Linked DNA regions of Homo sapiens. The protein of the gene in region 2 purifies or fractionates together with the protein of the main gene of each other region. This does not show direct contact. Each region holds a gene or a part of one and is shown on either strand. Other genes may lie near its edges.

Evidence for each region. The genes of interacting proteins can lie anywhere in the genome.
Region 1: the proteins of TMEM63B (region 2) and ENOPH1 purify together in Homo sapiens (affinity purification with mass spectrometry; one large-scale study listed by BioGRID and IntAct). This does not show direct contact.

The regions. Positions count from the first base shown.
Region 1 is NC_000004.12:82,447,414-82,451,089, reverse strand, and holds part of ENOPH1 (enolase-phosphatase E1), read right to left. Parts: intron 3,171-3,676; coding exon 3,069-3,170; intron 48-3,068; coding exon 1-47. UniProt on the Homo sapiens protein: Bifunctional enzyme that catalyzes the enolization of 2,3-diketo-5-methylthiopentyl-1-phosphate (DK-MTP-1-P) into the intermediate 2-hydroxy-3-keto-5-methylthiopentenyl-1-phosphate (HK-MTPenyl-1-P), which is then dephosphorylated to form the acireductone 1,2-dihydroxy-3-keto-5-methylthiopentene (DHK-MTPene).
Region 2 is NC_000006.12:44,153,667-44,156,075, reverse strand, and holds the end of TMEM63B (mechanosensitive cation channel TMEM63B), read right to left. Parts: intron 2,401-2,409; coding exon 2,233-2,400; exon of another isoform or gene 2,099-2,232; intron 2,004-2,098; coding exon 1,888-2,003; intron 1,712-1,887; coding exon 1,631-1,711; intron 1,385-1,630; coding exon 1,193-1,384; 3' UTR 557-1,192; downstream 1-556. UniProt on the Homo sapiens protein: Mechanosensitive cation channel with low conductance and high activation threshold. Osmosensitive cation channel preferentially activated by hypotonic stress.

The DNA.
Region 1 (3,676 bases), on a different chromosome or scaffold from region 2:
GCTGCAGGGATAGGAACAGCCCCATCCAGGTGGGCGTCCTCTTCAGCCTTTAAGTCAGAAACAACATGATGTTTGTTTTTTGCTTATTCAAAAAACAGTCATTTAAAACGAGACCCAAAAACCCAGCAGAACAACTTTCTCCATCATTAGCCCTAGTATGGCTGCAAATTGAAACATCATATACTTTGGAGCTGATACAAATGATTCCTAAAAGAACCTGGATTAATAAATTTACATTACCTTTCCTTTTGCTAAAAGCTGAAATTTAAACTGAGACGCATGTTGTATATGAGAAGAGAGAGCACATAATGATAGAATTAAGATTTGATTTGTTGATTCACTACTGGGATCAACAAACCAGGACTTTAACTCAATCTGATAATTTTCTCTGCACTATAACTAATGGAGAAAGAAACAAAGAAAATCTCATAAATTAGTTTATGCCTGGAATTCAGCAAAAAGAAGCTAGTGAAGTAATGAGGTTGGTTCACATTCAGTCTCCTATAATCTCCCACATCTTGCAAAAATCCTAGTAGCCACTTAGAACAATGACCTTGTGACAAAGCAGTCCAATTTCTAAAGATACATGTGTACATATTTATATACAATAATGGGGGACTATGTATGTATGTTTCAACAAGGTTTTGACAACAAAAAAAGGTAAGGGAGGAAAGTAAAGTAAGTCCTCATTTAACATCATTGAAAGGTTCTTGGAAACTGTGACTTCAAGTGGCATGACCTTCTCAAGTAATGTCATTTCCTTCAACATCATTTTGTTATAACATTTATGTGGAGAAAAAATTGGTTTTGTTATGGTTGGTTTAAAATTGAAAATTGAAATTTAAGTGTCATTTCACTTAGTTTCCAAGAACCTAAAGACAACATTAAGTAAGGACTCACTGTATTTCAGATTAACCCTGAGTTATCCAGAAAATTAAAATCCCAAATATTCCATGCCCAAAGGACATAACTACATTTTGAATCCTAATTCCTAACAGTAAAACATCCACAGAGAGCATTCCACAGTATCCAATATAGAACTAGAAAATAACTGCCAGTGAGTTAGCTCTGCAGACCATGTAAGATCTTTGCCACTGAAGCAATTTTAACAAGAAAAACAACAGAGCAGGAGTTCCATAGCACACAATGTGGAAGGAAAAGACAGACTGATGACTGGTGGGGAGAAGAGGGTAGAACAAAGCACAGGAGACCAAAGGAGGTATGAGGGCTGGGCCAGAGTGAGCTGGGGTGAGGAGTCTGGAAGGGGAGTGTGAGTGTGAGGACCCAGGAGCACTGCAGAGGGGGCAGCAGGGGCTTGCAGTAAGGAAGGAGGGAGTGCAAAATGATGAAGTACTGTCATATGGAGAATGACATGGCTTGGATGTGTGTCCCCACCCAAATTGCACATTGAAATGTAATCCTCAGTGCTGGAGGTGAGGCCTAGTGGGAGGTGACTGGATCGCGGGGATAGACTTCTCGTGAATGGTTTGTTTAGCACCATCCTCCTTGATGCTGTCCTCACAATAGTGAGTTCTGGTTGTTTTAAAGTGTGTAGCACCTCCCCTCCCCACTCTCTTGCTCCTGACTTTCACCATCTGAGACGCCTGCTCCGGCTTTGCCTTCCATCATGATTAGAAGCTTCCTGAGGTCTCCCCAGAAGCAGATGCCGCTATGTTTCCTGTATAGCCTGTAGACCTGTGAGCCAATTAAACCTCTTTTCTTAAAAATTACCCACTCTCAGGTATTTCTTTACAGCAATGTGAGAACAGACTAATATAGAGACGTTAATAAAAAATGTAGAGACTGCTCAAAACCTTTTGCATTCTACCCAGAAAGGACTCTTTTTTTTTGAGACGGAGTCTTGCTCTGTAGCCCAGGCTAGAGTGCAGTGGCGCCATCTCGGCTCACTACAACCTTCACCTCCCACGTTCAAGCAATTCTCCTGCCTCAGCCTCCCAAGGAGTTGTGACTACAGGTGCCCGCCACCATGTCCGGCTAATTTTTTGTATTTTTTTTTTTTTTTTTTTTTTTTGAGACGGAGTCTCGCTCTGTCGCCCAGGCTGGAGTGCAGTGGCGGGATCTCGGCTCACTGCAAGCTCCGCCTCCCGGGTTCACGCCATTCTCCTGCCTCAGCCTCCCAAGTAGCTGGGACTACAGGCGCCGGCCACTACGCCCGGCTAATTTTTTGTATTTTTAGTAGAGACGGGGTTTCACCGTTTTAGCCGAGATGGTCTCGATCTCCTGACCTCGTGATCCGCCCGCCTCGGCCTCCCAAAGTGCTGGGATTACAGGCGTGAGCCACCGCGCCCGGCCTAATTTTTTGTATTTTTAGTAGAGGCAGCGTTTCACCATTTTGGCCAGGCTGGTCTCAAACTCCTGACCTCGAGTGATCCACCCACCTCGGCCTCCCAAAGTGCTGAGATTACAGGTGTGAGCCACCGTGCCCAGCCTAGAGTTGCCTTTTTCTAGAGCTATTTAAATTGCCTAACAATATCATATATTTGCAAACTTAAGCCCTTTTTGGGTGGGCTGGGGGTGGTAAGCTCATGCCTGTAATCCCAGCACTTTGGGAGGCCGAGGAGGGTAGATCACTTGAAATCAGGAGTTCTAGACCAGCCTGTCCAATGCGGTGAAACCCAATCTCCACTAAAAATACAAAAAATTAGCTGGGCATGGTGGCAGGTGCCTGTAGTCCCAGCTACTCGGGAGGCTGAGGCAGGAGAATCGCCTGAACCCAGTAAGCGAGGTTGCAGTGAGCTAAGATCACACCACCACACTCCAGCCTGGGCAACGAAGTGAGACTCCATCTCAAAAAAAAACAAAAAAAACAAAACAAAACAAAACAAAAAAAAACAACCAAAGAGCAACTCCAGAAACAACAAACTGACATGATCCAGCCTTTAATTATGTACTGTGAATTCCTAAGCAGGCAACTCACTAAGTCACTGCAACTTCTATCCCCTATCAAACCAGGGCACTTATTTTACAAAATGCTCAGAGCATGTCCTAAATCTCCAGGTACCCTCATTTCTAAGACACTTGGGAATTTAAGACAGAAATGTCCCAACCTGTTTCCTCAAAAGACTGACATCCTGCTGGCACTCCTCTTCTTCCCAATGTGTCTGCAGATACTCTTTAACATTTTCTTCGATGTAAGGAAATAAAATGTCCTGGATAAAAGAGTAAAAGAAAATACAAGAGTTAGCTTTTATCAGTTGTAAAAGATCCAGTTCTTCCACAATCTTACCTACATAACTGTAACAAATAAATCAATGGAACTCTATGAAAATTGCTGCTGTGAATATGAGCAAGAAAGAGAGACAGAGGCCAAGAAACAAATAAACTAGACCAAGAGTCGGCAAACTACAACCTGCAGGCCAAATCAAGTCCACTGCCTATTTCTGTAAATGAAGTTTTATTGGAACATAGCCACACTCATTTATTTAAATAATGTCTGTGGCTACTTTTGCATCACAATGGCAGAATTCAGTATTTGCAACCAAGACCATAGGGCCTGCAAAGCCTAAAATATTCACTGTCTGGTCCTTTACAGGAAAAGTCTCCCAACTACAGAACTAGATGGCCAGACCAAAGGTCCTTGAGGATATGGATTAAATGTGTCTTGCTCACAGCTTTATCCCCCATGCATACCACATTATTGTACATATCACTCAAA
Region 2 (2,409 bases):
TCTCGAACTCCTGAACTCAAGTGATCCACCCACCTTGGCCTCCCAAAGTACTGGGATTACAGGCGTGAGCCACCGCGCCTGGCGAGAAGGTGAATTTGAGCTGGGTCTTGGAGAATGGGTAAGATTTGACTGGAGGGTGGGAGGGGGCTTCTCATTGAGGAGATCAGGCCCTCCTGGGGAAGGGACAGATGGGCTGGCGCCAGGCTTACTTTGAGGTGCTCAGAAGGGCCTTCGTCCTGGCCCAGCATGGACCCTGTGGCTTTGCACGACCTTTTCTCCCTGAATCTCTGTCCCATGTGTGTTGCTCAGGGACTCAGGGGAATGATCAGAGTGGGCGAGGCTGGTATGGTGGCCACCTGGGCACAGGGGCCCTTCCTGCCTCTGAGATATCCCTTAAGTCTCTCCCCAGCCCCACTCTCTCCTCTCAGTGACACAGAAATGAGACTCTGAACAAGTCCCTTGCCCAGCGTCATGCAGGGACCTCAAAGAGGCCCTCCAGATAGGAGGGTGGGGACCCGGCCCAGGTGCCCAGGGCAGCACAAGTCAGACACCTGCCTCAGAGCTTTTCTTTGTTTTTATTTTAAAGGAAAAAAACAAAAAAGAACAAAAAAACCAAAAAAAAAACAGTGCAAAAACCCATTTTCCAGTGTCAGCCTTGCCCACCCCCACCCCCAGGCCACCCCAGCTGTGAGCCTGACTCTTCCTCCCACTCAGCACCCCCTCCCCCCTCATGCATCCCCTAGGGGCTGGAGGCTCCACTTCCCTGGAGGGCCAGATCCCAGGAGGAACTGTGGGGTGGAAAAAACGGAGGGGGGGGAACAGCCCCAGATCCACCTGCCCCCCAGGTCTCCAGCCACCGGCACCAGGTGCACCAGGTACTCCTCTTGGCTCTCATTAACCCTCTCCTGGTCATGCTACTAGCTGGGGAGGGGTGGGGGGTACTGATCTGGGGGAACTCCCTCTGCACCCCTCTTTGCCCCGGGGCCGGCTCGGGGCTCTCCTCACTGAGGTTGGGGGGCTCCCTCCCTCCATCATGGGGGAGAGCAGTGAAACCCCCAAGTTTAAATACCTTAATGAAAGCAGGGGCTGGGGAGGAAGGGGCTTTAGATCTAATAAATTATTAGCGTTTTAGTGTCCGTGGGAGTGGGGGTGGGGTGGGGCAGGATGTGGCCTCCAGGGCCCCTCCCTCCCCTTACTGGTGAATCTCATTCTCTATGAGGCTGTCCTCGCAAGACTGGAAGTCTGTGTCCGTGAGGGCGTCGGGTGGCATCAGCAACTCCTCATCTTGGGATGAGGATGATGGGGGCTCATCCCCTGAGCTCCCAGGAGCCCCATCCCCATCCCCGTCCACCTCTGAGTCCTGCAGCACCTGAGCGATGTATTTCTGAAGGAGGAGAGGAAATGGGGGCAAGGTGAACAGCTGCCCCTCATGGATTGCGGGAACACCAGGGCATGTAGGACAGCAGAGTGGGCAGGGCCCTGGGGGGCGGGGGCAGCCCTCCAGGGAGACCAGCTCTCTTCCCGCCCCCATGGGGTCTGGCACAGGTTCCCCTTTCTGCAGGACTAAGGGAACACTGGGCTTTGAGGCTGAGTCTGTCAGAGGCCCCTCCCAACCCTTGAGGGCACTCACCGCAGATTTGGGGACAGCAGCAGCAGTGGGGGGCCGTCCATTGCTTCTGGGGTCCACAGTATCTGTCTCCGTGTGCTCAATCTTGAGGGGCCCAGAATGAGTCAGGAAGTGGGGGCATGTCCTCAGCCCTGATCATGACCCCACGCCCGCTTGGCCCTGTTGGCGCTGCCCTCAGCCCTCGCCAGCCCTGTGGCCCTCTGCATTCCTCCCCTTGAGCTCCTGCCCGCAGCCATCCGCCTGCCACCCTTGCCCCACACCTTGTAGTTGTGGGCACTGAGGTATTTGAAGTGTCCAAAGCAGACGTGGCAGAGACAGATGACGATGGTGATGACCAGGACCACAAATGTGAACATAGACGTGGGAGCTAGGAACCCTGGTGTTGGGGGGCAAAGAATGGGGTTGCTATCTCCTGTGGGCCTCCCCACCCCAGCTTCTGATACCCTCTGAATGCAGTCCTCACTCTCCCAGGTGCTACAGACTGGCCCCAGCCTCTCCCAGGCCCCTTGCCTGCCACCCCCAGCCATGCGGCTTCTCCTGTGGCCTGCTCTGGCTGGAATCCACTCTGCTCGCCACCCCCCGTTCCCTGGGTAGGGATCCCTCACCCGTGCGCATGGTGGAAAAGAAGAGCAGCCAGAAGAGGCAGAGGATGGGCGCGGCCACCACCTGGTTCACAGCCCCCGAGTGGATCTTCTTGTCCAGCTTGGCCGGCAGGTAGGCGTAGTAGAGATTGTACCTGTCTACCAGGTGCTTCAGCAGCATGTACATGAGCCCTAAGGGAA